5 separate regions of the Homo sapiens genome follow, and all the other regions are linked to region 5. The links come from fine-mapping of genetic effects on gene expression. A gene starts in region 5. Each other region holds a variant in brackets. All regions are shown on one strand. Distances are between the middles of the regions.

Region 1 (5,108 bases), 25 kb after region 5:
ACCAGCATGACAGAGCCAGGCATCACATTTGAAAAGCATACTCACAACGCACAGGTTGCTTGCTTTCCATCTCAAAATTGCTAAGAGAGTAAATTTCAAATGTCTCACCACAAAAAAAAAGTTAAATATTTGAGGTGATGGATATGTTAACTACCTTGATTTAATTATTTCACATTGTATTAATAAATCATAACATCACTTTGGACCTCATAAGTTCATACAATTATAAATTGTCAATTTACAATAAAAAAATTTTAAAAATCATTTGTGCAAATTCACCCCCTTGGAGATAAAAGTGGCAATGAAAAAATGTTTAATTATTCATCAGAACTATCAGAACTTATTTTTCCCACTCTTTTTTTTTTTTTTTTTTTTTTTTTGAGACAGAGTTTCGCTCTTGTCTCCCAGGCTGGAGTGAAATGGCACAATCTTGCCTCACTGCAACCTCTGCCTCCCAGGTTCAAGCAATTCTCCTGCCTCAGCCTCCCCAGTAGCTGGAATTACAGGTGCATGTCACCATGCCCGGCTAATTTTTGTATTTTTAGTACAGTTGGGGTTTCACCATGTTGGCCAGGCTGGTCTCGAACTCCTGACCCCAGATGATCTGCCCACCTTGGCCTCCAAAAGTGCTGGGATTACAGGCATGAGCCACCATGCCCGGCCTCCCACTCATCTTTTAAGATGCTGCTCAGGTTCTACATCTTCCAGAAACCTTCTCTGGCTCCCCCTGGCTAGATTAGATGTCGCATTTCAATGCCTCCATAACTCTTTGTGCACTTCTTTGCCACTGTACTTATCTGATTGCATTTTAACTAGCAATATATTTATCTATCTCTTCCACCAGACTGTTTTAGTCGTCTTGGAATGCTATGTTCTCATTTGGCACATAGGAGTTAACTAAATGTTTGTTAAATGGATGAATGAAGGAGTAGTGAGTGAACAACTGATTAAGGAAATAAGAATGTAACGCAAGCCAGGAAATAGTAGGAGGAGACAAAAATAGGGAGAAATGAAGGAATAAAGCACAGGAAATTCAGTCTGAAATTAGATTTTCCTCATTTTAATATATTTTTCTGAATTACCAATATGCTTTCAATGCATCTTACTTGAATATTTTTTTTCCTGTTTTTTTTTTCAGAGCACCACTGAAGAAAGGCATAGCAGGTGATATCCACTGGGACAAATACATACTACCTCCATTTTTCCTTGAGGTTTGAAGAGATAGGCTTGGGGTAAGACAGGTGGAGATCAACATATCATTTTGATTACTTGTAAAGCAGCTATTGGAAAATGCCACTTATGTCTGGGAAAAATACTACATCCCAGAATTAGACTGACATTCCCACTCAGGTGTGGACCACTGCTGGCGATCTGTGTGAGGTCTGGTCCTATAACACTGGCTTAGAGACAAGGGTGCTTCCTGTGGGTAACTGGTCCCAAGAGGAGGAGAGGAGGAAGCATGGGGCTCCCAAATTCAGCAGGTAGGTCACTCCCTTCCCTAGGGTAGAGTGTGTGGATGCAGAGGGTCAGGAGAGTTATACTAACTGATGTCCCTTCACACAGAAGAAAACCCCAGAAGTAGGGAATAAATATTACTGTGAAAGATACTCATTTTATGATTAAGACAAAACAAGTTACTCCCACCAGGATGTACTTATTTTTACAGAAAGGGGAAGCCAGCATGTAGAGTAATTTTTACAGTAAGCAGGTTCAAGTTCAACAGCAGGAGAAAGAGACCAGAAGTTAAAGAAACAATATATGTTCACTTTCACACTAGAGAAACGATCTAAATCTATAATTTAACACTTTTAACATTTTTTAAATAAAATAAACTTTTTTGGAGGAATAATTATCACATGGTACAAATTTCGAAAGGTAAAAAGTGTGAACAGTGAAAAGTCTCTCTTCTATCCTGACAACTACTTTCAGAAGTTATTTTTCTAATTATATGTCATCAGAGATATGTTTTATTTCATTTGCCTTTTCCTCTTGATTTGAAGAGTTCAAGGTCCTCAATTTACAAATGAATTTTTAGAGTATAATCTGCTTGCAAGTCATTTGGAATTCAGATTGCATCGCAAATTTCTGTTTCGGGTTTCTTAAGGTAGTTCACTAACAGTACCCCTAGGCATTGGAGGACACAGCACTCATGGGTCCTACAGCTCTAGCTTTGTTCTGAACTA[C/T]TAGATTAGAGGGGGCAATGACTATTGTGCACATAAGTATCTTTAACTTATAGAGACAATCTATTAAAAAGTTGAAAATCTGTTTAATTACATACAATGGTACCTTCTCTCCTCTTGGTTGCAAATGATACAACTTGAAAAGGAAATATTTTTCACAGTCATTTTTTACTTCAAAGAAGTATGAATATTTCTTTTATAGTATGTTTCAAAACTAATTCACCATCATGATATGTGACAAATATTTTGACTGGGAAAACCAGAGTAGGGATATTTGAAAGATTCTTATCCCAGAAATTGAGACAGCCACCCATCAAGTAATTAAGCCAAATATTTTCTTTTCTCACTCACTCAATTTACTGACCAGATACATTAGGGCAAGGAGTATGCTTGGAGAGGAGTCAGACAGTCTTGAGGGATGAAGCAGATGTGGAAATGAGCAAGGTTCATGGAGTGATACAAAGAAGGAAGTAGTAAATTCTACCCGGAGCTGGGGATGAGGGTTGGAGAGAGGAGGGCACTCAAGAGGCCTCAGTGAGTGTGACCCTTGAAAGGAGACCTCCTTCTGTAGTTCCTACAAAAAGCATAGGCACAGAGCAATGAAACAACCTGCTGTGCCAGGGAACTGCAACTAGGCGGGGCTTTTCTGGCATAAGGAATATGGGGTGGAGTGTGGGAAGAGGTGAAGGTCTGGAGGCTTCTGACCTTCCAGGATTCATGTGGATGCCTTACATCTTAGCCCATCCATCACAATCCTCTGGAAAACTAAAATAAATTATTATTCTTTCTTCTATTACTAATTAGTTTTGTTTTAAGCATATCAACTTATTGTTAATCATTCATACAGGAGGTTACAAAAGGAAAAGTCAAAGCTGTTTTTGCCACTTCTATATCTAACCACCTAGTCCTACTCAGCTGTAGAATATGTTACAAAAACTCTCAGAAGTGCTTATAGGTATCAAGCATTATTTCTTCTGTCTGCTTATTATGTATTTATATAAGACTATTGACTTATTTATATTAATTTTGTATGCTACCTGTTTACCAAATTCTCTTATTATTTATATTAATTTCTCCATTTACTTTTGTTTTCTTTTTTCTCTCTTTTGAGACAAGGTCTTGCTCTATCACCCAGGCTGGAGTGCTGTGATGCAATCACTGCTCACTGCAGCCTCAACCTCCAGAGCTCAAGTAATCCTCCCACCTCAGCCTCCTGAGTAGCTCAGACAACAGGCAAGCTAATTTTTAAATTTTTTTGTAGAAACAGGGTCTCCCTATATTGATCTGGCTGGTCTTGAACTCCTGGGCTCAAGTGATCCCACCTCATCTCCCAAAGTGCTAGGATTACAAGAAATGTGGGCCACTGAGCCAGGCCTATTTTTTGTTTCCTAGATATGTAATCACATCATCTGGAAAGAGATAGTTTTTTATTTTCCTTCTGATTCTTGTGTAATTAAATGCTTTCTCCCAGCCAGGGCAACATGGCAAAACCTCATCTACAACAACAACAACAACAAAAATAGTCAGGCTTGATGGTACAACTGATGTCCCAGCTACGTGGGAGGCTGACGTGGGAGGATCACCTGAGCCAGGGCAGTGAGCCATGATTGCACCACTGCTCTCCAGCTTGGGTGACAAAGCAAGAGCTTGTCTCAAAAAAAAAAAAAAAAAAAAAAACTTTCTCATATAATTGTATTGGCTAATCCCTGTTTCCAAGGCTTAATAGTAATGGACATGGTGGTCATCTTTGTCTTCTTACTACTTTTAATAATGTTTTTCCAGCCAGGTGCAGTGGCTCATGCCTGTAATGCCAGCACTTTGGGAGGCCAAGGCAGGTGGATCACCTGAGGTCAGGAGTTTGAGATTAGCCTGGCCAACGTGGCAAAACCCCATCTCTACTAAAAACACAAAAATTAGCTGGGCGTGATGGTGCGTGCCTGTAATCCCAGCTACTCAGGAGGCTGAGACAGGAGAATCACTTGAACCCGGGAGGCAGAGGTTGCAGTGAGCCAAGATCGTTCCCAGCCTGGGCAACAGAGCAAGACTCCATCTCAGAAAAAAAAAAAAAAAAAAAAAAATTTTCCATTAGGTGGGAAGCTGGCTTTGGCTGAAATAGCCATCAATTTCTATTAATTGAGTATTTTTAACATAAATGCATGTTGAATTTTGTTTGCCAAATACCTTTTTGGCATTTATGGCAGCAGCAATCTGATTTTTTTCCTTAGCTTTATTAATATGATTAATTGTATTAATTGATGCTCTACTAAGGAACCACTCTTGTATTCTCGGAATACATTTTATAATAATACTTATATATTATTATTAAATACTGAAGAAGTGTCATTTTCTGGGGTAAATACCTGAGGTTCATTATCTCATGCCAAGGGAATTGAGGACGTGAACACACAAGAAGTGAGTTTAAGAGCAGAATTTTAATAGGCAAAAGAAAGAGAAAAGAGACTAGATCTCTCTCTTGCAGACCCCTAACTGGATCTTCCAGTTTCGTGGTGAAATGCATGAGGTTTCACAGAGGAGCTTGAGGATGTGGTGTCTGATTTACACAGGGCCCGAGAGAGATTGGTTGGACTAGGTGTGACGTTTGCATAGCACATGAGAAAGCTGGCCATACCACCCTAATCTTTTATTATGCAGATGGACTCTCCACATGGCTGGCGCCATGTTGTCTGTTCCTTACTGTACATATCGTTGACAAAGAAAGGGGAAGATGGAGCCTCCATATTGAACATGCTTGGCCCCCAGGTAGCCTTTTTCTTCTATTGGCACAGCTGCTGGTATTTACCTATGCAAGCTTTTAGCTTGCTTATCTATGCTTGCAGCTTGATTTTTCAGGCTGCTTTTTGTTAGGAAAAGAAAGGATTTGGGGGCTGCTTTTTATAAAAAAGAAAACCTTACCGAGGACTTTCTTAC
Region 2 (5,108 bases), 250 kb before region 5:
TGACATATATCTACCATTATAGTAGATATGTTTTATAGTATCATTCAGAGTAGTTTCATTGCTCTAAAAATCTTCTGTGCTTTGCCTATTCATCCCTCCCTCCCCTTCTAATCCCTGGCAATCATTGATCTTTTTACTGTCTCCATAGATTTGCCTTTTCCAGAATGCCATATAGTTGGAATCATATAGTCTATAGCCTTTCAGACTGGCTTCTTTCACTTAGTAATAAGTATTTATGTTTCCTCCATGTCTTTTCATGGCTTGATAGCACATTTTTCTTTCTTTTCTCTCTCTTTTTTTTTTTTTTTTTTTTGAGACGGAGTCTCACTCTGTCACTCAGGCTGGAGTGCATTGGCACTATCAGCTCACTGCAACCTCCACCTCCTGGGTTCAAGCGATTCTCCTGTCTCAGCCTCCCGAGTAGTTGGGATTACAAGTGCCCTCCACCACGCCTGGCTAATTTTTGTATTTTTTAGTAGAGATGGGGTTTCAGCATGTTAGCCAGCTGGTCTCAAACTCCTGACCTCAGGTGATCTGCCTGCCTCAGCCTCCCAAAGTGCTGGGATTACAGGGATGAGCCATCGTGCCTGGCTGAAAGCTCATTTATTTTTAGTGCTGAATAATATTCCTTTGTCTGGATATACCACAAGTTATCCATTAACTTACTCATGGACATCTTGATTGCTCCAACCTTTGGCAATTATGATTAAAGCTGCTATAAGTATCTGTGTGCAGGTTTTTTGTCTGGGCATAGGTATTCAGCTCCTTTGGGTAAATCCCAAGGAGCATGATTACTGGATCATATGGTAAGAATATGTTTAGTTTTGTAAGAAATCACCAAACTGTCTTCCAAAGTAGCTGTACCATTTTACATTCCCACCAGCAGTGAATGAGAGTCCCTGTTGCTCCACATCCTTGACACCAGTTGGTGTTGTCAGTGTTCTAGATTTTGGCCATTGTAATAGGTGTGTAGTGGTATCTCATTATTGTTTTAAATAAACAGTTTTGATAAATAGTTTTGAAATAAACAGAAGTTTAGGAGTTGAAGATACCAAGATTTTTATACATTCTTTATAAGACATTTATAAAGTTCCAGTGTATGTCATTGGAACTTGAACTTGTACTGGCCGAAATACAAAACAGTTATTTTTATAGGGGTGCACATAGTATCTCTTATATGTGAAAAAGAGAGTAATTTTTTTTCTTATAGAACCTGCAGATATCTTTCAACAAGGAACATGAAGAAAATGCATATTTGAGGTCCGAAATAATGTCTCTTCATGAAGCATCAGAAAAAGCACAAGTAAATGCTCATGATTTTGTTAGTTTTTAGATGTTATTTAATTTTGTTCAATTAAATAACCAAGAAACAAAATTAGTCTTGATTATATAAATTCATACCATCTCCATCACCCAACTTTTCATTTCCATAAGATTTATTTCATCTTTGAAACATTATCAAATTAACTACGTTTCTCATTTCGCTCTCCAAATTCCTATGATATATAAGTATACAAGATGTACCACTATAATTATGCACTAGTTTACACTTTGCCTTTGCTTGCTTTCTAATTTGCTCATTAAATATATGTATTTCCCCCTCCAAAGTGAACTTCTGAATAATTCCATGGCAAGGGCTATGTCTTATACTTTCTTTGTATCTTCTATAGTAAATAATTATACAGTAGGAACCTAACAAATGCTTGCTGGATTTTGAAGTTAGATGTAATCATTTCTGGGATGGTGATTCCCAAATTTAGCTGATGTTTTATATATATGTGCATCTGCAACAAAAAGTCACCAGATATGCAGTCAAATTGGAGTTACTTATCACAGAGCCAAAAGAAGTGTTTATCATTTAAAATAACTTTTCTCTTGGTACAATTTGATTGTCTCAATATTAGGATCATAGTGTTGCTGGGCTCTGTGTATAATAAAAATAATGAAGTATAAAATGAATGTGTTTTTAAATATAATAACATCAACTACTATTACTCTTTCTATACTAATAGTAGGTAACATTTTTACTGAGCCCCTTCTACATTCCAGGCACAATTCCAGGCACCTTATATTAGTAACAAATTGTAATCCTCACAATAGCCCTATGAAATGGAAACTTATTCACATTTTAAAGATAAGGAAGCTGATGTACAGAGAAGTTCAGGAACATAGATAATAGGTGGCAGAGTTGGAATTTGAACTCAGGTAACCTGGCTCCAAAGAAAAGTAGCTATTTCTTTTCAAGGAGCAAGGGTTCTCTGTTTCGTCCCCAGGTATTCTTTGATGAATAGCTTGTACATCTGCATCTGGTGTGACTTTAAGCCCCTGAATTTGTTTCTAACTACTGTACTGCCTGCCCATACCACTTGTGATGTTTGCCAGATAATCTTTTATTTATCTTTTCTTTTACTCCATTTTATTTTTTGTGTGTTTTCTTCCTAGTGCTCTTTCAAAGTTGCTTGTTCTTGAAGAACTTGTTTAAAACATAAGATCTTTGCCAAATCTACCTTGCAAAAATAACTGATAATTGAGATAAATGTTTCTCTCAATAATACAAATTTCAAATTATGAAAAGAGAATTATTAACTACCTACATATATGATATATCTGTGTAGCTCAAACAATTTTTGTTTTATTTTGAAAGATTAATCTCGTGATGGTAAAATCATCTATATTTTGCTTTTATGAATATTGTCAGCTGGTGGTGAAGGAGCTTAGGTATTTTGTGTTACCAGCTAAATAATTCTGAATGCTCATGGATTTCTATAATATTGGCTAGGTACTGACATTGTAAATTCCATTTTGCAGATGTCTTGCTCTAATGAACCAGTGTTCAAATTTGTGAAGAACAGAAGATCAGTAAAATGCCATATGCTTCAGTTGCTCTACCAAATCAACAAATCTCTTAATTTAGAATTATTTATGGTGTAGACTTTTAATATTTGGAAGTATTTTTTAAACTAATGACATGTGAATTGAGGATAGGTTAAATAGATTAGTTTCATATATACAGTGAGATACTATGCA[A/G]TCATTAAAAATAATAATACATAAGTAAAAATAATTCTTTATTGGAGAGACCAATGACTTGCTGTGTGTGTTTTCTTAGGTTTTGAATGACCAATTGACTAAAAAGTGTTCAGAGTTGAGCTGCATGCTTCAGACTGTTACTATGGAAAAAGCCAGAATCATTGCTGACCATCAGGCCATTCTGCAGGTATTCGTTTAACATGAAAGCCAACCAGAAAGCCAGCCTGGTTGATAGATCAGGAAATGTTTATGGCCAACTGGAGAAATAAAATATTTTAACAATAAATTTCAAAAAATCTACTGAATTATCTTAATTCTATTAGTGCTTTTCAATTTTCATCAGAGGGGTGATTTGGCCTTACACTCAGGGCTTTTCATGATTTCTTCTCAAATATCATCACTTGAGGAAAAATAATTATTTGTCCCATTGTTTATAGAATCATGGAGAACACGTATGACTAACCTTAAAGTACTTAACCTTTTCCTCAAACACCTTGCCGATTTCTCCTTTTGCTTATGCCATTTTCTCTGCTGAGAATGCTTTTTACTTCATCTTCAATATCTGAAATTCTGTTTATTCTTTAAGAGTCACTTTCATCAGGCAGCTTGATCATCCCAACAGGAAGGGATAAGTTTTCCCTTTCAACTTCTATTCCTGGGACACTAAACAGACCACCATAGTAATAGATCACTTTCTCTTTTTGTAAGCATACTTACTATATATACTAAGCATTGTGCTAAGGATTTTACACATATTACCTCCTTTAATTGTAGCAGCCATTATGTAAAAGGATATTTATTATCCTCATTTTACAGATAAGAAAATGAGGGTTAGAGAAGTTCACTTGCCCAAATTCACCTAACTAGTAAGAGGTAGAGTTGTGTTTTAACCTAGGGTGACTCCAGAGTCAATGTATATAATCATTATGCTGCATCCCTATTCTGCATTCTCTAGTAGTAATTTATGTGCTGGTTCATTTCCTGGATTACACTGTGAGCTCTCTAGAGGCAAGGACATTACCTTATATATCTTTATTTCTCATAGTGCTAAGCATGCTTTGCACATAACATATACTCAATAAATACTTAGTTTTTAACTCTGTGCAAGTATAATGCTATATCTAGATAGGATTATAGTGGTGAACAAGACAAAATTCCTACTTTCATGGACTTATAATTCAGTGGACTGAATATATAGTGAAATATTTATTACAAATATTTCAAAATTTTGGAATATAACAATTGGGATCCCATTTTACCAGTGTGAAGACTTGCTTTGCAATCAAATATTGTTAAAATAGAAGTTTTTTAAAAAGTATTTATAAAACTAATTGTTGATATGTACTGTATTTGCAAAAACTTTATGGATTATGTGTAGGGGTATATGGTACATAAAAATGTCATGTTTTGATAATTCCAAAATGGTGAGCCAAAGAAAATAAACTATGTAAAACAGTTATAGTGCTTCTGCTGTAACATTATCTGAGTGCAATTTAAGATAGTCTTAAAAGAATTCACAGCAAACTGTTAAACATGATAATCCTTAGAATGTGGGATTATTTGGAGGGGAAGTGCAGATAGAGAGGAAAGGATCTTTTCACTTTATATACATTTATATTGTTTTACTTTTAAAAATAAAGTACCATATTGAAATTTTAAAATACCAAAATTACTTGTAATATAATTTTCTATATTTAAAAATTTGTTGGTATTAGGAGTTTTATAATTTTTCAGCAGGCTGGGTAAATAATGCATCTTGACTATTGGCTAGTAGAGCTATAAAATGATAGAACTAGTCAACTCAGAGGAGGACAAAGAGAAACTGGGCATTGAAATAAATTGTTTTAAAAAGAGGTTTTATTTATGTAAATGAAACTTGTTTTTTTAAGTTAGTTCAGTGTTTTTGATCAGTTACTCCAAATGACACCCTATCAAAAGACTTTGTGGAGCTTCAACTTCTAATATTGCTTTTAACACTCAGGTAGAGCAGAAAATGATGACGCAGACATTTCAAGAACAAAACTTATTGCTGGATGCAGCCCATGCCAGTATCACAAATGAACTACAGACTGTTCAGAATG
Region 3 (5,108 bases), 95 kb after region 5:
TTAGTAGAGATGGGGTTTCACCATGTTGGCCAGGCTGGTCTCAAACTCCTGGACTCAAGTGATCCACCTGCCTTGCCCTCCCAAAGTGCTGAGATTACAGGCGTGAGCCACCACATCCGGCCACACAAGTGATTTTAAGCCAACTCAGGAGCACTTCATGTAAAACTTGAGATAAAAGGAGTGCCTACATCAGTGTGTACATCAGGCTATGACACTTGACTCCAGGCTTAGTCTGTCGCTTAAACTTGGACTTAACTTGCTTAAGTTAAAGAGACCTAATACTAAAATCAAATGGAGTGAACCATGCTGGCAATTAGGAAAGCTTTAAAATTTCAACCCATACTTTCTTCTATACCAGGCACTTGAAAACCCTCTTAAAGACAGAATGGTTGAGAGGCCAGATTTATCTATAGCAGGGGTGTCCAATCTTTTGGCTTCCCTGGGCCACGTTGGAAGAATTGTTTTGGGCAACACATAAAATACACTAACACTAATGATAGCCGATGAGCTTAAATAAAAAAAATTGCAAAAGGAATCTCATCATGTTTTAAGAAAGTTTACAAATTTATGTTGGGCCACAATCAAAGCCATCCTGGGCACATGCAACCCTTCAGCCAGGGGTTGGACAAGCATAATCTATAAAATTCGCTTTGTTTCTTTATCTAGTTTGTAGCTCCTGAATTTTACTATGCATAAAGTAAAGCCTTCACTAGAAGTATTAAACATTTTAAATTGTTTTAAGCAACACCTTTAAAAAGCCTTATTAGGTAACAATTATTTCTTTTTTTTTATAATTATATATGGAGTTTTTTATTATTATTATACTTTAAGTTCTAGGGTACATGTGCACAATGTGCAGGTTTGTTACATATGTAAATATGTGCCATGTTGGTGTGCTGCACCCATTAACTCTTCATTTACATTAGGTATTTCTCTCAATGTTATCCCTCCTCCCTCCCCCCATCCCACGACAGGCCCAGTGTGTGATGTTCCCTGCCCTGTGTCCAAGTGTTTTCATTGTTCAGTTTTCACCTATGAGTGAGAACATGCAGTGTTTGGTTTTCTGTCCTTGTGATAGTTTGCTCAGAATGATGGTTTTCATCTTCATCCATGTCACTACAAAGGACATGAACTCATCCTTTTTTATGGCTGCATAGTAGTCCACGGTGTATATGTGCCACATTTGCTTAATCCAGCCTATCATTGATGGACATTTGGGTTGGTTCCAAGTCTTTGCTATTGTAAATAGTGCCACAATAAACATACATGTGCATGTGTCTTTCTAGTAGCATGATTTATAATCCTTTGGGATTTACAATCCCAGTAATGGGATGGCTGGGTCAAATGGTATTTCTAGTTCTAGATCCTTGAGGAATTGCCACAGTGCCTTCCACAATGGTTGAACTAGTTTACACTCCCACCAGCAGTGTAAAAGCGTTCCTATTTCTCCACATCCTCTCCAGCACCTGCTGTTTCCTGACTTTTTAATGATCGCCATTCTAACTGGTGTGAGATGGTATCTCATTGCGGTTTTGATTTGCATTTCTCTGATGACCAGGGATGATGAGCATTTTTCATGTGTCTATTGGGTACATAAATGTCTTCTTTTGAAAAGTGTCTGTTCATATCCTTTGCCCACTTTTAGATGGGGTTTTTTGATTTTTAAACTAATTTCTCTCAGGAACTGACCAAACAACCAAACCAAATGTTAAGTAAGTTTACAGAATATGTGAGCTGCACAATGAGAAAAATTTCTCTAACTGCCGTATAAAACACTATGTCTAGCAACTACGAAAGACAACTTTTTATAAACAATTATCTCTTAAACGTGATTAATTTCTCCAGACCTTTTAAGATAGGAACTAAGGACAATGAGGGGAAAGAATTGGGATCTCAACAGAATCCATGAGAACAATGGATCTGTCTGGAAATCTTGACAGCTAGAGCCTTTCATTTGCATAACATTGTTTCTTAATTTAATCTTTTCAAGAGGATGAAATGCTTATGAAATTCACTGGGCCAATAACCCTGGAGATTTGAATCATTCAGCCAGGAAATAGTAACTCAAGGCAGGTCAGGTTTCTTGTAGCAGTCAAGGTTTGGGGGCATCTGGTTCCATTACACTGCTAGATGGCTTCCACCTAAGAAATTATGTGCCTTGGGTTTTATCAAGTTAATTGCTACTGAGGCCCCTAGAGAGGGTGATGGGCATACCTTTTGGGTCCTTAAAGCAAATAATTTGTATTTAGAGAGAAAGAATAAAATGACTTTAGAAGGAATCCACCGTAATCACCCTGGTCAAAGTCATGGTCATCATCTCTTGCCTGGTTTGCTTTGCTTCTGCTTTCGTTCCCTTGCAATTTTGACTCAACATAGAAACTAAAGTGATCCTTTTAAAACAAAAGTCACATCATATCAATCTGTTTCCTCAAGACCCTCCTAATAGTTTCCTATTTTGTTCAGAGTAAAAGTCCCCATGAGATCTGTGGTGGCCCCCCAAACTCCTGGCTCCCTCCACAACATGTGAGGCATTGCCCCCAGCTACTCTCCTCACCACTCTGCTCCAGCCACAGTGGCCCCTTTCCTGTTCTGTGGACAGTTCATGAGTTCCCCCAGGGACTTTGCACTTCTGCCCAAAACACTCCTTCATCAGATGTCAACATGCATAGCTCTTAAGGTCTCTGTACAA[A/G]TATGAGATTCTATGCTACGTAAAATAGCACCCTGGCCAGGTGCAGCAGCTCATGCCTGCAATTACAGCTACTCAGGAGGTTAAGACAGGAGGATCACTTGAGCCCGGGAGTTTGAGACCAGCCTGGGCAACACAGTGAGACCCCACCTCTTAAATAAATAAATAAGCACCCTGTCTGCCATCTCAATACTTTCTATCTCCCTGATCCCATTTCATTTTCTCTGTAGCACCTGCAGCACTTATTGCCATCTGTCATTTGAGATATTTCCTCGCCTGTTTGTCTCCCCTAGACTGGATACTCTGCAAGGGCAGAGGTGGGGTTTTGTTCACTGCAATATCTCCAGCTACTCAAACAGTGCTTGGCACTATTCACAGTCAGTGTATGTTGGATGAAAGGATGATGTTAATAATGATGTTATATGATGTTAGTAATGATGACGATGAAGCTAGCTCATGGCACATATGTGTGCCAGGCACTGTTCTAATTGTGTTACATCCATTAACTCATGCCATCTCCACAATGGCCCTACGTTGAGGTACTGCTATTCTCATATCATGGGTAGGGACACTGAGACATAAGAGGTGAGGTATTTGGGTTAATATCACACAATAAACAATTCAATAAATTAACAAGTTGGAAAGGGTCTTTGAGATGCTTAACTAACAGATTCCCTTTAACTTACAGGTGGGGAAACCATGCACAGGTGAGTTGCTAATGAAAAGAATGGCAGCTAGGACCTCCACTTGATGTACCTTTCCTGGGTCTCTGTCAGCTGCAGAACTACCAAAGCCCACCTCTTTTAAATGATATCACCACCCTATCTTTACGCAGCCAGCAACCCATAGAGTTTAGCAGAGTACACAATAAGCATTCAACAAATACACTGTGGAAAAAAAAAAGAAGAACGAGAGATGATCAAGTCTTTGGAAGCCAAGAAACTCTTCTCAGATTAGTAGCAGGCTTGGCAATGCAGTCAAACCCACTTTCTTGGGGCCTGAGAATTGTATCTGAGATAACCCTCCACATAAGACTCTCTAGGGGCAGTTAGTGCTATGTTTGTGAGTGCTCAGCTTTGGGGTAACTTCCCCAGGCACAGCAGATGGTTGGGCAGGGATTCTAGCAAGCAACCTGTACTAAGGGCCAACTGGCATGAAGATTTATATGTATAAATATCCCACTATTCATCCACATTTTCCACAGTAAGTCCATCTCCGGGAACACAGACTGATGCACACTTTACCCTGATTTCACTGGACTCAAAATGCATGTGTGTATGAGCGTGTAGTGGGTGTGTTGGTGGGTGTCAGAGGACGTGTGAGTGGGTGTCAGCAGGTGTGCTGTGAGTATGTGGGGAGACAGGCAGTGAAAGGAAAGCTCCACACATATGGTCAGTTCTGGATACTCCCAATCCTTGTGTGATGGCCTTGTCTCCGCTCTCTTGCCTGAACACCTCTGCATGTCAATTAATAAAACACTCCTCTCTTCTCTCCAAAATTTCCAGGTCAATTTTTCATCAGAATGACACTGAAGGAGTGCTTATGTACACATAGTATTAAGTGAAAAGTCATAAACACAGTTAAACAAAGAAACCCAGCCCCTTCCCATTCTTCCTGGTGTCCTGCCCCTGGGTTTTACTAAGCAAAGAAGCATCCAAACACCATCTTTGTGGCCTTGAACCAAGTGCTCACAATTCAGCAGCACCAAGGGCACGTGAGTGCCTCGGGAAGGTGAGCTGGCTGTTGCTGGGTGTGGCTGCCAGTCAGCAGGGTTCCTAGGGAGCAGCTGCTGATGGCCAACTCTTAGCAACTCACAATCTGAGACAGAGTGGTGGGTGCACTTCCCACCTTGGTCACTCCCATGAAGAGTTTGGGGATCATCACTCTGAGCTGTTGCATTTGCCTTCAATTACTGGGATGTGGAGAGGAAGCGTTACTGGTGATAAAATAACTCTTCTTCCCTCACCTCCCAGATCTCACCCAGTACAAGAATCAGAGCCTCAGACTTCGTTGAAGACCCTGATTTCAAGTCCAGGCAGAAGGTCGCAGCTGCAGCTCTGCATGTGCTCATCTTGCTCTCATCAGTTTGTGCTGAAACATCCTGCCAGTTTTTAACTGTGGTATTCAATTAGCCATAGGTTTTCCACTTGTATATTGTTATCGCTAATCAAATCTCTTAAACTGAAATGTATCCTTTGAATTTTAAAGACGGTTAAACTCTACAAGAATAAAGGTTAAGGGCTTTGGGTGCATTATCTCTTTTCATTTGCCCTCATTTCGCAGATGGGGAAACTGAGGCTCAAGACAGGGTAAGTCATGTGTCTAAGATCACCAGCAGATGAAGCTGGGAATGAAGGCGAGGCAGTCTGTCTCCACAGCCTGTGCCTTTTACCACGGACTACTTTCACTACCACTCATCACT
Region 4 (5,108 bases), 80 kb before region 5:
TTAAAAATACTTTAAAATTGTTATAAAACCTTTATTCTTTTGACTTGCTAGTTCTACTGCTAAGAATATATCTAAGTAATTATTCAAAATAAAATTTAATAGACAATAAACTTGTAAAAAAATGACATGGGTACTGACAAAAGATGAACTTATAAGTCTTTTAAAATATTCATTAGGTTCACTTTACTTAAATTCATAATACTGTATCTTTTAAGCACTATGAAATACTAACCTTAAAAAAAAAAACTCTTATATTTCCCCATGTTCTTTCATTTTAAATTTATGTAGAGTTTTGAAAATAAAACTTACCACAGGCTGGCTATTCTTAAAAGTTGTTAAGCTGGCTTGCAGATGAACAACCTAAGAAAAATAAATTGCTCTTTAATTTTACTTTTATTTTGAAACAAAACATATAAGCCTTTTGGTATTAAAAATGAGAAGCACTGTAATCTGAAATGTTTAAAATGTAAACCAAAAAGTCATTTAAACATTTAAAAACATTCTTATACAAAACAACAACTACACATGCTGGCTATCATGGATTAAAAAACAAACAAAAGCAACAAACAAATGAACAAAAAAACGGAAACAGAAACAAAACAATACAAACTTCTGGAGTATGGTGGGGCCAGGATATACCGCTATACCTTTTATAACCTGTAAAAGCCTATGTTTGAATGATGCTTTGTTATAGCAACTTAAAGTGTCTTGTAAGTCAAAGATTTCATTACATTCAATATAGTAAAAGGATATAACACATTTCACATATTTTAAGTCTTTGAAAACCAGAACCCAATTATATACAGTGGTGAAATGTTTATAAGAACTGAAAAAAATCTTTAAATTTAATTTATTAGGGTTACTTAAGTATTTAAGAAAACTTTGCTTAGTGGGTCAGTGGTTTGAATTACCTAATTTAAAAAATACTAAAATTATTATTTATAAATCAAAGTAGCTGTAAATAATTTTTTAAGAAGCATATAAATTTCCTTTGGAAAACTGAAAATAATATATGATATGCATGTATTTACACTTTTAAAAATTTCATTTTTAAGGAAAAAAAGAATTATCCACTCTGATGTCAACTGTCTGTTCCTAAGAATAACATGGAGAGAATACACTTGTATTACCTCCTGGATTTTTTTTTTTTTCTTTGCAAAGCTGTCAGCTTTATCAGACACGTTTTTCACTTCTTCAGTAAAAATATTAGCCTAATTATTTTTATTGTCATCTTCTGATCCTTCAGCAACATTTGTAACATTTTATATTATCTTAGTATGATTAATAGCTTGATCCTACTGACATCACTTTTTGTTTCGTCTCTTACCCATGTTCAAAAAGAGGTGTGAATATAAACTGCCCTAGTGAAATGTTAAAAAAAAAAAAAAATTTAACACTTGTAAAGACTAAGAAGCAAGCAGAAACAGATTATATCTTCTCCTTTCCCTTTCCTTTTTAACAACAAAAAAACCCCAACTTAGATCAATAATTTCCCTTTTCCAGTTAATTGTATGTAATTTAAATAACTAATTACATTCAAACCCGTTATGTAACAGAGGGTTACTACAGTGTTTATGAGAATTTTTGTTAACAATGCCTACGGAACATCCTACATGTATGTGCCTAATACAAAGCTCAATCATTTTGGCTTTACTGATTTGACATACCTTAAACACATAGTAAAGATAAGAAAGAAGTATGGCTAGTGCTCCACAAGTTGTCCAACTAACTATGATCAAGACAATTGTCAAAAAGGGCAAGTCTGGTGATATCATCTTGATATCTTTAGGAAGTTCAGAGGGTCTGGAATTATAAGAATAAAGTTTAAAATATATATTAACAAATATTTATATAGTCACATATAAGAAGAAAACAATATAGTACCCTCCCAGTCTCTCTTGCTTATATGCAAATACATAAGGTAAACAACAAGGTATTTTTTAAATAAAGGCAAGTGGTCCCAAATATTTGATTTTAAGTTCTGTAATGTATTGTGATAACTCCTCTACCATTTTGATAATACTATAGCTGATACTTGTACTACAGGTGAAAAAATGTTACCAAAGATAATCATTAATTATACACTCTGTGCCATACATCTCCAGTCTTGACAGGAGGAGAAACTATGTTCTATTTCTTAAAGCCTAGAGACCACTCAGACCCTTGATGGTGTTACTATCAGAACCCCTATCTGAAGCATCTCAGAAGGGTGGAGGAAGAAGCATCACACCCACCATAATCCCCTCTGTGACAGGAAATCACATGACATGTCTGGTAAGGAGGAGTGGCAATGGGCACTAGATTGATGATTTACCAGGAAAGCCTACCAGTAACTTCAGATTCAAACTGTGTCATTGGGCCCATAATAAAACTCTAGGCAATGTTTTTGGAGCTTTTATATATCTCATCTAATCTGATCCTAATATCTGGTTTACAGTCTCTTGCCCCCTGGTTTCAATATAGAAGTCAGCATATAAAAGCAATATTATGGGAGAAACAATCCCTCCTGGGAAAGATTCACAACCACGAAATGTAAAACTATCTGCGTAATTTGTCAAACTTTTCTTATTAACTCTTGAGCGCTAAGGTCAAAATCAAATGTAACATTTAACTCTTAATAAATGATTAGCTTTCACAGACATAACTTTGAACACTAACCCATACTTTCGCTAGTTATATATTTTTCCTTAGAAAATAGTTTAGTAAAAATAATTAATTTCAGGTTCCTTATCAGAATATATATTTCTTCTTAAAGCAATAAGAAAGCTGTTAATCATTCATTCTTTACCTTTTCAAAGCTAGCCACAATGAAGAAAGAAGTCTCACAGATGCAGAAGACAGTAGGCCACTCCAGTAGGCAGTACACGTTCCAAACAGAAAGAGAATCAAGGATATCAGGGGGAAACACATACTCTGACAAGTTAAAATGAC[G/A]GCATCTAATTCTGGTAACAATAATACATCCCACAATTCTTTAAACCATTTATACCTGTGGAGAAAAGAAAATATAAAAGCAAAAAACCCAACAACTGAAATTTAAGGACTTAATATTTGAGGTGTCTGACTATTCAAGAGAGTCTCTAAAGTTCCATGATACTTAATTTATAATTATACTGAAAAACAAATTTTTAATTCTTTGTATGGAACAAGTCATTTATTTTCCAAGTGAGCCTACTGATCTTTGAAGATCTGCATTTCAGTATAGCTTTACTAATCTATATTGATACTAGTAGAAAGTAATATGTTCTTTTTTTTTTTTTTTTTAGAAAGCCAAGTTAGTTGTAATGATGGAAAAAAAGATCTACATATTGATGCTTAACCAAAAATCTGAAAATGTGACTAAATTAAGAATGGAATGTTAACTAGGGTAGAGAGGTCTAAAATATACTTTTAAAAGTGATCAGAGAGGCACTGTTTCATCAATACCCTGTAATGATTTGCGTTTGAATCTAGGATACTCACAGATCATGGACCATATACACCTATTTACAAACATTAAAGGCAGTCTAAGTTTAGACTGATATACATAAAGTGAATAATTACTTTTGAAATGATACTATTGAAGTAGACATTGATATACTTATTAGACCTTTGCCTAAGAGAAAAAAAAAACCTCATTTAATGAAACAAGTCAACTGCCAAATCTGTATGAAAATTTATATTGCATTATGGAACCAAATATAATGTTACATGTAAAACACAATTAAAATCATTATCACAGATAATAAAACTTACCCCAACAGAAACTTAATGATAATTACAAAAGGATCAACTTTGTATGGTTTGGCTTCTTTATCCAACATGGTAGCATATTCTAAGCAACAACCTGGTGATTTAAAAAAAGTTACATGCAATTTACAGTAATTAAGTATGAGATATACTATATCCCACGTTCTCTAAAACAGCAACATATTTTATGTCAGAGAAAGTAAGGGTCTTCATTACTATCACAGAGACTCTTCTTGAAAGATTAAAAATAGCTGTAATTCAATGGTTCTTATATTAGAGTACACATTCAATCACTTGTAAAAACAAATTCAGGAAGTCAAAGCTGGGGTTTCACCAGCTGTATTTTCACAAAGCTCCACAAGTGATTTAAAAAATTAGCTTTATGGGACAAAATTCTGATATAATTCTTCTATTTAAACATATACAATTTAGTGGTTTTTAGTATATTCAGAATTGTACATCTATCACCACAGTCTTAGAACACTTTCATTACCCACAAAAGAAAGTTTTCTTTTAACTATTACCCCCCAAATTCCCATCCTTTGGCAACCAGTAATCTACTTTCCTTCTCTAAAGATAGGCCTATTCTGAACACTTCACATACATGGAATCATAATATGTGGTCTTTTGTGATGGTCTCCTTCCACTTTTTTCAAGATTCATCCATGTTGTAACATATACCAGTATTTCATTTAATTTCTTTTTAATCAAATTCCTTTTATTCCATTGTATGATTATACTACATTTTATTTTTCCATTCATCAATTGACAGACATTTGGGTTGTTTCTGCTTTTTGGCTGTTATGAATAATACTCCTATGAACATTTGCATATAAGTTTTTGTATGAATATATGCTTTCATTTTTCTTGGTTATATTCCTAGGAATGCAGATGCTGAGTTATGCAATAACTCTGTATTTAGCCATTTGAGGAATTGTCAGACTGTTTTTCACAGTAGCGACACTATTTTACACTCCTACCAGCAGTGTATGAGGGTTCCAGGTTTTCCACATCCTCATTAAAACTTATTATTTGTCTTTTTAAAATTATAGTCGTTCTAGTGGGTATAATCCACAGGTGATTTTTGATAAGCATCCTTGGTTCAGAACTACATATTTAATTGGCTGGATACATAATCCAGTACTTAAAGCCTCTAGATTAACCAGCATCAAATATCCCCTAGATGTACATTCTATATGTCTGAGAATCAATTATCAAGTCAGTTGAAACCAAGAAAAACGAGACCTTTTTCAGACTTTCAAAACAAGATAGACATTTATACTTAAGTCTGGTTCTGGTTGATGTCATAGTGTCAGAATAATTTTTTTTTTTTTTTTTTTTTTATAAAGAGTCTCATTCTGTCACCAGGCTGGAGTGCAGTG
Region 5 (5,108 bases):
AAGACTTAAGAATACAATATAAATACTATCATGAATTAACACAGCTTTTTACATCATAAAAACCTGCTAAAAATCAAAAACTTCTGCCACTGTGATTATTACTGTATTAGCAAATTATTAATAGAAGTGTAAAACCCCAAAAAAGCAACTTAAACCAAAATAACTAAACCTAGACTACTCAACAACAATAAAAACCCAAAGAGCTCTTTACCATTAGCTACACTAATTTTCTGTTTTTCCAGTCAATTTATGAGGCAGGAAATGCGTCTGTGAGATCCATATGCTTTGTTCCCAACGCTAAAGAGAACAATTTCTACTTCTGTGAATATTAAAATAGCTTCAATAATTGTAGGAAATCTAAAAATAAATGGGAATTAGTACTGTACTGTCACAAAATGATTTTAACCAAACTCTTCAATGCGGTACAAAACTAAAGTGACCTACTTCAATCTATTGGGAGTTTCCTAATTATTAAACCAAAAATAAGGAGGGAATTATAATAGCTCTATTTTCAGTTTTTTAAAATACTAAACTAAAAAGGTTTGCTTAGAAATGAACAGAGACGACAGTAACATGTCAAAATCTTCTCCTTCGATAGCATCCCTACCAAATGTTTCCACTCTCTTATCATCATAAATGCAAAACCAAGGTAAGGATCTAAACACAAATGAAATCTAAATTTACTAGAATTTTTCCCATGGGAAAGAATGCTCTTCAGCAATTTAAACCTTAAGTAGTCTTAAGATCAAAATAATAGCAGCGTAATCAAGTAACAGGCTTCCTCCATAATGACTTGTACAAAGAAGCAATCAGGACTTGCATCCTTCACCCTAAAAAAAAAACTGCTGTGATTTTAAGAGTATACTAAAAATGTATTTTATCAATATATGTTATAGTGCATATACATTTTATGGTAGGGAATTATTACAATAGGTAGTCCATAATTAAGAGATGCACTTAGAAATAAAAGAATCATTCGGAAAAATTCTCTTAGGACAGTTGTGTAATTTGTCTGCGCCTCTTTTTACAGCTAGTCATGAATGAAATTCTAGATCCTACTATGCCGAACTAACGAAGCCATTGATTGAAAACATTCAAAATGGCATGGAAGCGGTAGGGGTGGAGAGAGAAGGGTTGGCTCTCTCTTAAACTCCGAACCCAGCGAGAAAACAAAAATAGCACCATGAAATAGATTTTGTATGCAACTATTAAGAGGCTCGGCTGCTGAGAGACATGCATAAACACAGGTATGCACACACACAGGCAAGCCCACACACGCACGGCCCCTTAACCTGCAAAATAAGAGGATCTGCAACATCTTTCCAAGAGGGGATCTAGTTTCCAATTCAATGACTCGCCAGTTTACCCATAGGCAAAACCCTGGAGTCTCTAAAAACAGCCTTGGGAACTATCTAGCCAATATACACTCTGCAGACGCTCGGTCCCTTTCTAGAAATGCGAAATCTGACGAGCAGATCACCGGGCGCGAGGGGAATTTAGGCGCGTGGGAAGCAAAGGAAGGTCCTGGGGCACGGGTTAAGGCAAGAACGCGAGAGGGATGGAGCTTCGGTTTAGGGAGAAGGGTTGAGGCTGCCTCTCTGGGCATGAGGGGGGCTGGGCCCGGCCAGTCAGAAGAGCTTGTGCCCAGGATTTGGGGCTGGGGAGGAGGCGGAGGGACAGCGGAGTAACTACGAGGACGACCACGAGGATGCTCTCGGGAAATCGTCTAACAAACACCCCACCGTGAAGAAGGGACACAAAGGGGAGGTGAGGGGGGCAGAAGGGGGATGCAGAGTCTCCCCGGGCGGAGAAAACAGAGGCGAGGACGGGACAGGGGGCCCGAGAGGCGCAGAGAGCCAAGGCAGGACGAACCCACAGAAGGAAAAAGGCACCAGGGGCCAGAGTCTTGGAGCGCCCGGCTGAGGAGAGGGCAGAACCTTACCTGATACTCCGGGTACTCAAACATGTAGCTCATACTGCACTTATTCTCCTCGAAGCCGAAGAAGACATCCCACAGCCCCAGGGTTGCCAGAAAGACCATGAAGACATAAAACGCCAGGTTCCAGAGATTAACTGAGTGAAGAAACATGGTGCCGCCACCACCGCCGCCGCCGCCGCCGCCCCCTCTACCTCCTTCTCCGCCGCGGGGCCCCAAGCCCGGACTGAGCGTGCTAGACACTGTCCGACCGCCACCCCCGGAGCCGAGCCCCAGCCGCGCGCGCCTGCGCTGATGCCCGGCCTGCCCGTTCGCCAGCCGCGCAGTGCGCCTGCGCGCACCAGGTCCGCGGCGCCTCTGGCCTGGCGACTCCCAGAGCCGAGGGAGGAGTAGGTGTTGCAGCGCGAGCGCGGATCTACGGGAAAGAGAAAGAGGGAGAAAGCAGGGTGGGCTGGGCTGGAGGGTGAGGGGAAAGAAGGGAAGTGGGGAGAGAAAGACGCGAGGAGTGGCTGGCGGGAGGGAAAGAAGAGAGAGAGAGGAAGCATCCAGAGGGGGATGGGCGGAGCGCGGGAGCCCTGGAGACGAGCCGGGGGATTGGGCAGGAGGCGGGTGTCAGATGGGTGAATCTGGGGAGGGGACTAGAGCCCAGAGTCCAGAGGCGATTAAGGACCGAGAGCGGACCGAGAGAGGGGAGGAGGACTTAAAAGCCCAGGGGTCATCAGCTGTCACCTCGCAAACGCCTCTCCCTGCGGCAGTTTAAAAACGCTTCCCGTTCAATTTTGAAAAGACTCAGGCCTCCGCAATTTCGGTTTTCCCAACGGTAGTAGAGCACACTCACAGCTCTCTGGAGCAGTTAGCTTGAAGAGGGAACAAATGGCTTTATTTTCCCTCTTCTACCGCCTACTTGGGCCCAGTAGGTAACAGCGCTTAAAAGCACCGGCTCATTAAAAAAAAAAAAAAAAAAAAAAAAAAAAACACCCGCAAGCCGACGAGATTCTGCTCTTGGTATCAGATGAAAGCCTGAATCACAAAAAGCATCGTTAGTCCTTAAAATATGTTACCAAAATATCTATTAGCACTGACGTCCCCAACAGGTATCTGCGTAATCAGTTTGACGCTGACTCGCCTTGCTCTCCAGAACCTCCATCTCTTGGGGAATGGGTTCCACGTTAACTGGAGGAGGCAATTTCGTCCAGCTTCCATTCAAACTCGCAAATGACTTAATTCGTTTTGAAGAATTTCGGTTCTGTTTTGTACAAAGGAGGAGTTTTTAAAAAAAGCTCGAAATCAATCACTTGTAGCAGCTTCAAAACACTAGAATGTTAGGAAAAAGACATCACTCTTTAAAGCTGACTCAACAGTAGACGGTGTGTGTGTGCGTGTGTGTGTAGTAACCACAGGATTCTTAGAATGGTCTTTGGCACTAAATGAATTTCATTGAACTTGGGCTGATTTTCTGGTATATTTTCTGTGCAGAGGAAGTTTGGCTACAATACATAAAATCAAAGAATTTTAAAACCAAAAGGAAGCTTATAGTTTATCTTGTACAACACCCTGATGTTCAGATTACGAAACTATGAAGAAGAAGTGGAGTGATCCTGAAAATCAAGATAGTCTTTACCCTGCACAGAAACAGTTGCAAGTCTAAACAAACACAGCTAGCTACGGAATGTGGAGTATTGACGGAGAAAGACAGAAATGGGAAAATGCGGAAGCAGTCTCCTTTTTTGTAGGGAGATAAGTCTGGAAAGACCAGGATAACAGGGGAGCTGTAGGTGGTACTGATCAGGAGGGCAATTAAGTAATATGTCATTGAAGTAAGTCCTGTATGAGACGTGTCGTTTTTGTTTGTTTTGAGACTGAGTCTTGCTCTGTCGCCCAGGCTGGAGTGCAGTGGCGCGATATCGACTCACTGCAGCCTCCGCTTCCCGGGTTCAAGTGATCCTGGTGCCTCGGCCTCCAAGTAGCTGGGATTATAGGTGTGACCACCACACCTGGCTAATTTTTTTTTTTTTTTTTTTGAAACGGAGTCTTGCTCTGTCGCCCAGGCTGGAGTGCAGTGGCGCGATATTGACTCACTGCAGCCTCCGCTTCCCGGATTCAAGTGATCCTGGTGTCTCAGCCTCCAAGTAGCTGGGATTATAGGTGTGACCACCACACCTGGCTAATTTTTTTTTTTTTTTTTTTTTTTTTGAGACGGAGTCTTGCTCTGTTGCCCAGACTGGAGTGCAGTGGCGCGATCTCGGCTCACTGCACCCTCCACCTCCCTGGTTCAAGCAATTCTCCTGCCTCAGCCTCCCGAGTAGCTGGGATTACAGGCACACACCATCATGCCCGGCTAATTTTTTATTTTTAGTAGAGACGGGGTTTCACCATGTTGGACAAGCTGATCTCGAACTCCTGACCTCTTGATCCACCCGCCTCATCCTCCCAAAGTACTGGGACTACAGGCATGAGCCACTGTGCCCGGCTTACCTTTTTGTATTTTTAGTAGAGAAGGCATTTTGCTATGTTGGCCAGGCTGGTCTCAAACTTCTGTCCTCAAGTGATCCACCTGTTTCGGCCTCCCAAAGTGCTGGGATTACAGGTGTGAACCACAGCACCCAGCCTGAAATTCTTTATGAAGTGGTGATTTCACTTGGGAATGTCATGTCTGTTATATTCTATTAATAGGTATAGAATGTGTTAAATTTGTAGAATTACACCAACATGACTGGATTATCAAGAAGAACCCATTTTGATCGCAAGATGTTAAGAGATAAATGTGATAAAGAGGAATATATACTATAGGGTTTTGACATTGTTGACCATAAAAGAGAATGCATGTGGGGTTTGGGATGCAATTACCAGTGAGTGCAGAGGATTACAAATCATTTGGGGAAGGCTTTAAGTTATAAATAAAAAGGGGGGAATACATTGAGTCTGGGTGCTAAAGAACATCAAAGGCAGAACGTCTCCTCTTTATTTCTCCTAGCATGGTAGGAGTAGTATTATGACAAATAAACCCAGGGTGAATCCATACTCCCTCATCTCTATCTCAGTGCTTCTTAAAGTTAATGTGCATGTGAATCACTTGGAGATTTTGTTAAAAAGCAGATTCTGGGCCGGGCACAGTAGCTCATGCTTATAATCCCTGCACTTGGGGAGGCCAAGGTGGGCGGATCACGAGGTC

Direction of the effects. Positions count from the first base shown, and alleles are read on the strand shown. Sizes are in standard deviations (SD) of each study's normalised expression. Not every link is listed here.
As copies of G replace A in region 2, the expression in subcutaneous fat of the gene that starts at base 2,180 in region 5 goes up (moderate effect, 0.47 SD a copy in FUSION).
In carriers of allele A in region 3, the expression in hypothalamus of the gene that starts at base 2,180 in region 5 tends to be lower than with G alone (moderate effect, 0.62 SD a copy in GTEx).

The links. PIP is the estimated chance that this variant, and not a neighbour inherited with it, causes the effect.
Region 1: its variant is the best candidate, but not a certain one, in a credible set for the expression of PGAP1 in whole blood (TOPMed, PIP 0.55).
Region 2: its variant is the best candidate, but not a certain one, in a credible set for the expression of PGAP1 in subcutaneous fat (FUSION, PIP 0.53).
Region 3: its variant is the best candidate, but not a certain one, in a credible set for the expression of PGAP1 in hypothalamus (GTEx, PIP 0.82).
Region 4: its variant is the best candidate, but not a certain one, in a credible set for the expression of PGAP1 in whole blood (TOPMed, PIP 0.57).

Annotation. Positions count from the first base shown.
Region 1 is chr2:196,949,377-196,954,484 of GRCh38, forward strand. No RefSeq gene overlaps it. Among named protein-coding and RNA genes, the nearest start is that of PGAP1, 25 kb to the left of the region's middle. The variant C/T (reference allele first, on the strand shown) is at 2,184.
Region 2 is chr2:196,671,135-196,676,242 of GRCh38, forward strand. It overlaps CCDC150 (coiled-coil domain containing 150), which reads left to right. Exons shown (of 28, transcript NM_001080539.2): 9 at 1,211-1,303; 10 at 3,107-3,214; 11 at 5,009-5,108. Among named protein-coding and RNA genes, the nearest start is that of CCDC150, 34 kb to the left of the region's middle. The variant A/G (reference allele first, on the strand shown) is at 3,028.
Region 3 is chr2:197,019,994-197,025,101 of GRCh38, forward strand. The region is part of intron 17 of ANKRD44 (ankyrin repeat domain 44); the gene reads right to left. Among named protein-coding and RNA genes, the nearest start is that of PGAP1, 96 kb to the left of the region's middle. The variant A/G (reference allele first, on the strand shown) is at 2,690.
Region 4 is chr2:196,844,215-196,849,322 of GRCh38, forward strand. PGAP1 (post-GPI attachment to proteins inositol deacylase 1) reads right to left here. Exons shown (of 27, transcript NM_024989.4): 21 at 3,733-3,823; 22 at 2,789-2,986; 23 at 1,668-1,803; 24 at 310-360. Among named protein-coding and RNA genes, the nearest start is that of C2orf66, 37 kb to the left of the region's middle. The variant G/A (reference allele first, on the strand shown) is at 2,932.
Region 5 is chr2:196,924,528-196,929,635 of GRCh38, forward strand. It overlaps PGAP1 (post-GPI attachment to proteins inositol deacylase 1), which reads right to left and starts at 2,180. Exons shown (of 27, transcript NM_024989.4): 1 at 1,943-2,180. The coding sequence starts at 2,089. RefSeq lists a silencer at 2,129-2,378.